Linked DNA regions of Homo sapiens: region 2 is linked to region 1. The links come from fine-mapping of genetic effects on gene expression. Tissue or cell type: whole blood. Region 1 holds a variant in brackets; the other region holds the start of a gene. All regions are shown on one strand. Distances are between the middles of the regions.

Region 1 (5,396 bases):
TTTTTTTTTCTTCTTCAAGACAGATTCTCACTCTCTTGCCCAGGCTAGAGTGCAGTGGCGTGATCTTGGCTCACTGTAACCCCCACCTCCCGGGCTCAAGCAATCCTTCCACCTCAGCCCTTCCAGTACCTGGGACTACAGGCACACGCCACCACACCTAGCTAATTTTTGTATTTTTTGTAGAGGCAGGGTTTCACCATGTTGCCCAGGCTGGTCTCAAACTCCTGGGCTGAAGCAATCCACCTGCCTCTGCCTCCTGAAGTGCTGGGATTACAGGTGTGAACCACCACACTCGGCCAGAATTTTGTATTTAATTTTTCTTAGCTACCTTCACAGTGCATTTTTGTAACACAAATTTTTTAGACCTGTTTCTTTATAGATTTTTTGATTGGCATATGAATATATGAAATATATACACCTATAACGTATTTTTATATAAATACACAAATGTAATCATCTCAACTATTTTCAGTGCAGCCTTTTTCTTATTTCATTGGCTCTTTCAACTTACCTGCCTTCTCTAACTGTAGCAGTCCATGCTACGCTATAAATCATACATGCTGCATTCTTAGTATGTAACTTAATATGCATCCTTGTATATTTTTCTCATGCTTCTAACTCTATCCAGGCACATAGAATCACGTATTTTATTAGTAGGGGCTTTTGGTGATAGTTTTACAAAAAAGTGGATCCTATTATGCACACTTCTGCTCCTTTTCTACTCAACAATACCTCATGTAAATCCATTCACAGCCCTGGATAACACTAATCCCCTCTTTTTAATGGTTGCATACTGCTCTAAAGTGTGGCTGTGCTGTAGCTTCCTCTGCCAGGCCCTCTATGGACATTCATTTTGTTTCTTGCTTTTTGTCTGTGTGAACCAAACAGCAGTACCCACTCTGGTACATACATACTTAATTACTGGTGGTTTAGTTTCTGTGGGATAGAGTCTCAGGAAGGGATTCCTGGGTCACAAAAGACTAGTTATTTGCAGTGTTAATAGCTGCTGCTGGATTGCTTTCCAAAAAGGCTGTAATGCTTTATATCTCTACCAGCCACTATGAGAGTTATCTCCAAAGGAGTAGGTGTTGTATTTATTTTTCTAAGCTTCCATTTAATTTTCTAAAGCCTCTTACAATGTTCCTTAGACACATAAACACACACACACACACACACACACACACACACACACGTATGATTAATTTTAATTTGAAATAAATTCCTCAAACAACCACAAGTCTAGTAATACTTAATAATATGAGACAAAGAGATCTTTCAAAACGAGTGATTATTTTAAAAAATATTTAAACAATTATAGGCAGTTTCTCGGGCGTCTATGGGAAGTTTCTATTCATTCTGTATGGAATTTAAGGAAGAAATCTCATTCTCTTATGCTAGGATTCCCCTGTGCAAAATGTGAGGCCTCCTAGAGGATCATAATTTTGAGTGTGATTAATTGCAAGGCCAAGGAAAAACTATGGCCAGTTTTGTTTCTGATCTCCCTATCCTCTTTGCAGTTGGTATGACTGGTCACCTTATAAAGGTGTTCATTGTGTGTTTCAAATAATGACTGGGCTGAGGTCACGCTGTGGTTAACTCAAAGCCTGTGTAAATCAGGCCATGAAGATATATTTTATTTGCCTGCCTTACACACATGAAGTGTGGCTGAGCCCTGGAGAGCCATCGACCAAAAGATCAGCTGGAGGAAGGCTGCTGCATGGTTTTAGCCCCCAAGGTGAATTATCCCCATTTAAATTTCATCTCCCACCTCTCCTAATCCAGTGTGAGTACCTAATGAGCTCTGGATAATAACATAGCAACATTTCTAGGTGAAGCTAATCTGATTCTGGATAGCAGGCTTCCAGGCCCACAGCCGAATGAATTGCTTGGTATTTCCAAGTTTGAAAATACTTTTTTCCCCTTTCAAGTGCTCCTTGGCAGCAGGTAAGGAATGTTAAAGCTCCTGTAAGTGCCAATTAAGGCCAATTATAACTCACCCGGCCTGCTGAGACAGTGAAGTGGAGTTAGTGGAGACTTGTATTCCTGTAAAATGGAGAACTGGCTTTCACCAATGATAGGAACACAGTATTTCATAACTGCCAACAGCTTGTTTATTGCCCTCCAGAGCACTGAATGACACCTCT[G/A]CTGGCTTCTCAAGGATTCAGTTTAGGAAATCCCAAGATTTGTAGGGGACTTGACTAATTTCTATAATAGAAACCTCAGTTTTTCTGTTTCTGTTTAACTCCTCTATCATCCATCCAGTTTCTCCTTGGTTGTAATCATAATAGCTAACATTTGCTGAACGTTTAACAAGTGCTGGGCGTTGCATTACCTGCATTATCTCAAATTTACTCCTCACCCCAGGCTTGTGGGAGGAGGCAGTATCAGTCCTTAGCTCTCCTGAGTCTCTTGCCCACGGCTGCACAACTAGAAGTGCTCAGACTGCAGGCTGGCTGCCCCCTGAACCCAAACCTTGAGTGTTCCTCCTAGCCTCCTGCAAGTTTGCCTGTTTGCTGCGAATAGGCTAATGCACAGTTCAGAACTCCCTTTGTGCACTAGAGTAAAATTGACATGTGTACACCATCCAAACCACAGCTGATACATATAATTTTCGGTCAGTGAGGCACGGATGTTATTCTATTAAGATGTTATTTTAGTCTGTAGTATTTTTTTAGTCTGTAGTCTTAATTTTTTTCTTAGGGAAAAAGAAATATGACCATGTCCCCAGACCTAGACAATTAACGTCTGAGCCATCATTGGGATATTTAATATCAAAATAAACTTTATTTGGATAGGATATCGAGAAACGGTTTGAAGAAAATTGTGATAATGCTTTACAAGCAGAACAAAGCAGTATTTGCTTAAACATTTTATTCAGGGCATTAAGGGGGCACATGTGAGTGTTTAAAATTTTAATCTGAGCTTTGTTCTCAATTTCTGTGTATGTGTACAAAATTAATATTTTCCTGGCATACACGACCATTCATCCCTTTTCTGATGTAGGTCTTAAAAATAAGTTAAAATTCGTTTTTCTCTTGTTTATTTGTGAACTTAAATATAGACGTTTGTTTGTAGCATTTAAGAACATTTGCTAAAATTCACCCTGGTTTTTTACAGGGTTGCAGAACGACTTGATTCTTAGAACTGTCTTGGATTGGCTGACTCTCATAACGATATTTTTCCCCACTGTATTTCGTACAATCACTGTGTACGAAAGGGAATATTAGAAAGGCAAGCATTTGTGCTAGGAAGGCCAGCAAGGACTCTGGTGTTCTGTCATACAAGTACAGTGATAGGGAAGTGAGATTTAGCTCCAGAAAGATCCTCCTACCCTGTTCTTTTCTGCTATTGATGGCATTAAGGAGATTCCTTGGCTACCCCTGCAGGGAGGGCAGGTGAAGTAGGGTGAACAATACTAAGACCTGTGGCAATCAGGTTTTACAGCCATGGAATTTTTTTTTTCTAGCTTAAGAAAAGCTTCAGTGAATTAACTTAAAATTCTTATTTTCGCTTATGAGCTTTTAAAAAGATTTGGGAGATGTATCCTCATCCTGTGCTTCTAAGGCTTGCTGATGGCTCTTCCCTTGCGTTCTTCTAGTGTCTTCTAAGGGCTTCCATAGTTTTGGATTGTATGAACGTTACTGTAAGGAATCTGGGGGAAAAAAAGTGGGTTTCAGAAAACCCCCTGGGTCTTAGTATTGTTGACATGGGTTGGGATCTGAATCCTTGTGAAAATAGGGCAGTGCAGCTACTGTTCTTCTGTTTTAGAGTCAATTTAGAATTTGGTCTAATAGAAGCCGTTTTCATGCCTCTCTCAGAACTCTTCCCCGCACCTTTCAGGCTAAATCATTTCCACATATGTAATTCATGACTTTTGCCAAATATTCTGTATGGGGTGATAGGATTCTGTAGAAGAATCTTTTGCTGCTTCTTTTGACATTTAAAAGAGTTCATTTTGAACTATCAGGTATCTAAGTCATTATTATCATAAAACTCAGATCACTTGGCAGTTTTTTCCATGTCACTTGTGGGGATTTTTTGTTGTTGTTTTGTTTTTATTAGAACTCTGTCACCTGGGCTGGAGTGCGGTGGCACAGTCATAGCTTACTGCAGCCTCAAACTCCTGGACTCTTGCCTCACCCTCCCAGGTAGTTGGGATTACAGGTGTGAGCCATTACACCCCATTCTGTGTCATTTGACAGTAGATTTGTTGATTGGCCAGAGAGAGGGAGTGTGATAGGGATGATAGGGAAACAGGCCAGGAAGACACTGTTTTCAAGGGGGCACTCAGTGAGAGAAATTCTTGGATTTAAAAGTATGAAAGCTTTAGTCAGTCCTCTAGTGATTGAACAACAAACTGGACAAATGTGGATATGAAATTATACATATTTTACAAATATGCACAGAAAGTGGGTTCAGATATTTTGTTACTAGATTTAGGAAGGAAAAGTATGCTTAGGAATAATAAACTTTTTTTGAAAAGCTTAGCAACTGTAGATAGTATAGGGGAAATAAAACCTGGAAAAATGCTGCAGGTATTTTATAGAAATGTTTAACTTTAAGACCTTTAGGTCTACCGAGACTTAAAATGTAGGTTTTTAAATAAATCATGTAAGTTTTGTAATATACCTGGTAGTAGCTTTGTCAGTTTAAAGGTATTCAGAAAAAAAATTCACAAAATATAAGTAATTTGCATTTTAGCAGGTTAAACTTATAAATTCCATCTTCCCCAGTTTTGACAAGTTGCCTTTCCAATAGAAAGATTAATTTACACCAGCCAGGACGCCTTGTATGACCATATTAGATGAAATTAGACTCCACCCCCTGTTTTCTGTTGATCTGCCAGGACCTTTGTAATTCAAGTGCTTTTTACAGTAGTAGCAAATGTTACATAAGCCCAAACATGGAGCATATTTGGAGTTGGTGGGCAGACCCAAATCATGATGCAAGCCTGCAGTAGCAAGTGTGCAATGAAGCACAACCAAATTCTGTGAATGGAAGGTAGCAAGACGCCTCTCCAAAGCAGCCCTTCTGCGCAGGAGCTGAAAGCTCCACTGGGTAAGTTTTCTGAGGCAGTTTTCAGAGTCTGGGCTTGGCTCAGGGCCCAGCTCTGGATGAGCCTGTGGACGGTGGGGTAGGTCTTTGCTAACCTTACATAGAACCAAGCAGATTTGGGAAGAGTTTATGCAGGCCTTTTTCCTCCTGGCATTTGTCTTGCCTTGCCAGCAGGCCAGGAGGGTTCTGCTGCTCAAGTAGTGGAGGGAGGGAGCCTGCAGAGCTAGGGGATCAGCGTGGGTAATCGCAGCCACAGGGATTAGCTGCTGCAAGCTGTCCACAGAAGCCATTCTGAAATGTCATTTGAGTGATCTGGCCAAAGTTCAGATGCAGACGGGAGC
Region 2 (5,000 bases), 39 kb after region 1:
ATACAAAACCTACTTTTGTATCTTTATTTTGGAATTTCTTGTTCTATTATAAATATGGAAGTATCCCTATTTCAGAAGACATATTTTGTTAAAAATGAATTGTACATATTTAAATATGTATTTTTGCACAGGTCTTTTTTTCTGATATCCTGTTTTGGTACAATTGAGATCATCTAGTATTTATTTATTAATTAATAAAAGTAAATACCTTTTTATAATTTGAAGTGGTTCACTGCCAAGCCAATAGTTCTAGAACCTGCCTCCTTTACAGTTTTAAGGGATGCCTCTGTTCTGTGAAAAGTCTTTGTCCCTTTTAGTGTCTCGGGAGTGGATTCATACAGATGAAGTGGGCATTGCTTCTTCCTGGTTGCCTGGTTTCCCGATAGACTACATGTAACTAAGTGACACACTGCTTTTCTTTTGTTAGTATTTTATGTGTGGGAGTATGTGACTGCGTGTGTGTGTGCCTGTGCGTGTGTGTGTATACTCAGCACATGTATGTTACTATGTGATGTGGTTTAAAACTAATGGAAAAAACTGAAAGTGCCTGAAACTAGTTTTAAGCTTAGACAGAATCTCTTTAAAAAGACTTGAATGTTCAGTTGAACTTTTGGAGTTTGCTTTTTCCACCTAAATATTGTTTCTAAAATTTTAGGGGCGGAGTTGAAAACCACCAATGCTGGTAATTTTATAAGGTATTTTAAAATTAAGACCTCTTGGTTCATAGTAATTCAATTGGTGATGGATTGCCTGGTGGCACCAAGGGTTACAGATCTTTTTGTCAGCCAGCAACTTACACGATGTGTCCGTTTTGTTATTCACTCATGAAATACAATTTAAAATATTTAAAATATTTTGTATTCCAAAAATATAATACAAAGAAGTACCTCTGAGAACATTGAAAAAAATGTATAATTTGAAAAATGTAACTTATAAGGGCAGCTGTCTTCCTGCAAGAGTTCTGTTGCCAAGGAATTTCTTAATGTCGCTCATTCTGTCCAGGGGGTTTGGGGCGATTGGGCTTTGAAAAAATATTCTTAAAAGTTTGTTTAGCAGAAAATAATCACTTTTACATTTTGTGCAAAACATTTTACATTTTCAGATAATTTAAATGAGCACTACATACTGTCAGTGTGAATGTAGGGCCTTGAAAGCATTTTGCTTTTTTTTTTTTTTTTTTTTTTTTGAGCTTGGTTATAAAAGCAATCTCCTGTGTTAAAAACGTGTGAATAGTTTGATAATTTGTACACATAATCAAGAGCATCTCAGCTGGACTTTGTGTTGGCTGCTGTATAGAACATGAACAAATGTCAAGGGATAGAAAATTACTTTGGATATTTAAAAGAGAAGAAATATATAGTCTATTTGTTTTGTAACAAGTTTCTGTAAATAAAATAATTTATACTATTTATAAGAAAAGGTTGTGCTTTGCTTTATAAGAAATTAGCTTGTGGAACAAACATGTTACTAAACGGGCAATAAAATTAGGACTTCTCAATAAATAAGGTTGGCTGCATGAAATATTGTACGTTTCTGCCTCGTTGTGATACTAAACCCTTTCAGTCTACTCTGACTTTTCATCACTTTTGGCATGGAACACCCTTGTGAAGCCCCTTCAATTTAGCCTTCCTCTTATATAAGCTAAATACTTCTAAGGCCTGGGGATGTTTCCATCTGGGGGCACAAAGCTTTGCTTTGGATAAATTAGTAACTGTGTAAACAGTGAACATTACTGTATTCTGGCCTTGCATGTTTGTGAAAGAAACGAGGGAGTTGATGGATTGAGAAACACATTCTATTTGTACTTAGGTGCAAATTTGATGACATGTAGTTTTGGTTTAAGATAAGCTTTTTATCCAGACCCGGTCTAATCTCTTCCTTTCTTTTACATACCTCCCTTACTGGCAATACAAGTGCATTTTAGTATTATTTGGAACACAGCATAATCATTTACCTCTAGAAATCCAGACATTTTTACTGTTTGCAAATAAACCATTCTGATAAATTATTTTTGTTGCTTAAAATAAGAGGAGGAACCGCTGTGTGTTAGCAAGAATGTCCATACCTGATATGAAAGAGTCATGTTGGCTTCAGTTCCTACTGCCCTGTGGACTTCCCATTCCCTCCTTACTTGAGTCAACCATCCACTCAGTACTTTCCACAAATCTAATAATGAGGTGCTCTCTGTAGGTAAATCCTTTCACTATGGCTTGTCCTCAAACCTCCCAAGAAAAGGTTCAACTGCTCAATCTCTTAACCTTTTTAATTCCATTCCCTTGCAGGTATCCCGGCCCTGCATAACAAGATGATCCCAACTCAAGGAAAGGGGTTTAGCAGTGTTGGATCTTGGCGTATGTGGGATTTAACCAGGCAGAAAGGCAGACAAGAGTAAGATTCTAGGCAGAGAGAGCAAATGCGTCGAGCATGGGTATGAACATGTGAGGGATAGAGAATAATTCTGCAGGAAGTTTGCTGGATGGAAGGGCCTTATAGGGTTAGAAAAGCTGGTGTCAGATTGTCAAGGACTTTGAATGTCATGGGGCTTCTCTTCCAGGAACACATGGGATCAGGCTTAGATTAACCCAAATGTAATTGTCAGAGCCCAGAGATATTTCATGGTCCAGTCCTAGCACTGTGCAGCTGCCAAAAGTCAAAGCCATTCAAATCTGTACTGAAAACTGTGGAAAAGCAAAGGAGCACTTAAGTCTCTTTCCCCATGTCTTGCATTCTCACTCTCTTTTGCTTCAAAGATCTGTCTTTACCTGCCCCTGTCCCCAGTCCTAACAAAAAGCACTCCCCTAAATCAACTCTTAAGTTCCTCTCCCTTCTCACTCCTTTCTTAGTCTCCTCTTTCTGTAAGAAGTTCTTGCTCCTGTTGTTAATGGAAGTTAATTAAAGTAGTATTTCACCTTGTAAGGCTGTAATTCTTGGCACTTGTTATCCTCATTTTCTACATCCAAAGACCATGGACCAGAATATCTCTTAGGAGGTAAGGGAGAGTGAGGCTATCAGCCAAAGAAAAAGTCTCCAGGGGGAAGGGGAGAATCACTTATAATTTAATACTTTGTGGAAAAAACATCTCTGCCACCTATGGCCCTCCAATAACAATGGAAGACAGAATCAACAGGTGAGAACCTTGGGACAAAAATAAGTTACAAAGCTGTTGTAATCCAGGTAAGAGCTATTAAGTTTCCAAACGAAGGCTGACTGTGAGGATAAGTGATACTGATTTCAGAAATCTTTAAAAAGTAGAACCAACAAGCCTTGAGGTCTAACTCTGTTCAACATTAAAGGGAAGAGTGAGTCTAAGAAGACTTCAGGTTTCTAGCTTGGCCAAACCAATTGAGCTTTAAGTGAAATGTGCGATATGGTAACAGAGAAGGAAAAAGACATAACGATAGATTTGAGCTGCTGGTGGGAAATTCTGGTTTAGTGCCCAGCTGGCTGTACAGGCTGGTTGGACTTTAGGAGGGAGGTTTGAGCTGGAAAATAAAGATGGAGAGTTGTCTTTCAGTTTTAGATCATCAGTGAGGTCATAAGGGTAGATGGAGTTTACCTGGGAAAATTAAGTAGCTATTCGATTTGGCTTATTATTATGTTAAAATAATACTTCTCTAGTGAAGTACTTAATATGCCAGATACTGTGCCAAGCATTTTATATACATCCTCTCTTTTACTAAGCCCTCATAGGGCAGGTATTTTGATTCCAATCATACTGATTGGAACTCCTAAGAAGGTATCTTGCTTAAGGTCCCACAACGAATAGGTGGCAGATCCAGGGTAATTCAGGTCTGTCAGAACAGTGATTCTTAATTTTTTCCCTCCTCAGACTCCAGGAGTCACATGAAGTTATGCATCCTGTCTGACCGAGGCACAGGCACACCACATTTTTATATTCCGCTTCCAGGATATCACAAACCTGAAGCCCATCCTCCATGGCCCAGAGAGAAAACCCAGGACAAAACCTTGGAGAAGACTATTTTCATGAAGACAAATGGAGAAGGAGCAGTAGAGTAAAAAGAGAGGTAAGGGAAGGCATTGAGATGGTTTACAGGGTTAGATGTTTTGAGTCAATCCCATTATAATTACCAATGCTATCTACCTATTTAGTTAACGTTTTATTGCCCTGCTGTTTTCTCCAGGATAATTGGAACAGCATGTATTGGTTGGGTGGAAAAGATAGAACTTGAGCAGGGAGATTGCCAAAGAGTGAAGATGTGGCTGAGTGATTGATGATGGTCTGAACTGGGTATTCAGGGAAGAGAACTAGAAGCCAACCATGTAGAATCTATGCAGGTGCTCTTAAGACATTGGTTTGACTGGAATTATCTTCTTGTTAGGTCTTAGGAATCTCCTTCCAGGTAACTTTTTCTATGATTAGACAATTGATTTGTTCAGGGTCACAGAGCAAAGTCCACATTTAATTCCACATGGCCAATAAAAGTGAGGGGCTACAAGGTGAGATCCAGGGGCCAGAGTTATCAAAGTGATACAGCACTTTTAGGAATAGGACAGGGAATGGAGGAATTGGAATTCCAGTATTACTTTCAAAAGCAGAACTGGCCAGAGGAATTGGAATTCCAGTATTATTTTCAAAAGCAGAACTGGCCAGAGGTGCTTGTGATTCCTGGGTGGAAACCATGGCAGTGGACAGAAGCAGCATGGAGGAAAAGAGCACTGGAATTCAGGCTGAGGAACTGTGAAGCCAAGGGTGTTGTATAGGTTGTCCATTTCAAATTAGGGTTGCTTGGTTCTGGGATGATTTGCATGGAAGAGGGGAGAGTGACTTGGAGATGTGTGATTGAGGACAGTGAGCACAGTGAGTTGATGGTGTTGCTGGGTTATAAGCAGCTTCAAAGAGAAGGCATTTTGAATGAAGGTGGAAACATAATGGCCAGGAGAACAAGCAAAGGACTAGGAAACAGTGAACTTCATCTTGGCCTCAAGTTCCTGAGGTGCATATGAATAAACAGTCTCTAACCCAGAGGGTTTCAAGAAAA

The links. PIP is the estimated chance that this variant, and not a neighbour inherited with it, causes the effect.
Region 2: PSMD6-AS2 starts here. The variant in region 1 is fine-mapped to the expression of PSMD6-AS2 in whole blood (TOPMed, PIP 0.96).

What each region holds. Positions count from the first base shown.
Region 1 is chr3:63,962,918-63,968,313 of GRCh38, forward strand. All of the region lies in intron 5 of ATXN7 (ataxin 7), which reads left to right. Among named protein-coding and RNA genes, the nearest start is that of PSMD6-AS2, 38 kb to the right of the region's middle. RefSeq lists enhancers at 1,623-2,127, 5,396. The variant G/A (reference allele first, on the strand shown) is at 2,145.
Region 2 is chr3:64,002,044-64,007,043 of GRCh38, forward strand. PSMD6-AS2 (PSMD6 antisense RNA 2) reads left to right here and starts at 1,979. Exons shown (of 3, transcript NR_038286.1): 1 at 1,979-4,025. It overlaps ATXN7 (ataxin 7), which reads left to right. Exons shown (of 13, transcript NM_001377405.1): 13 at 1-1,419.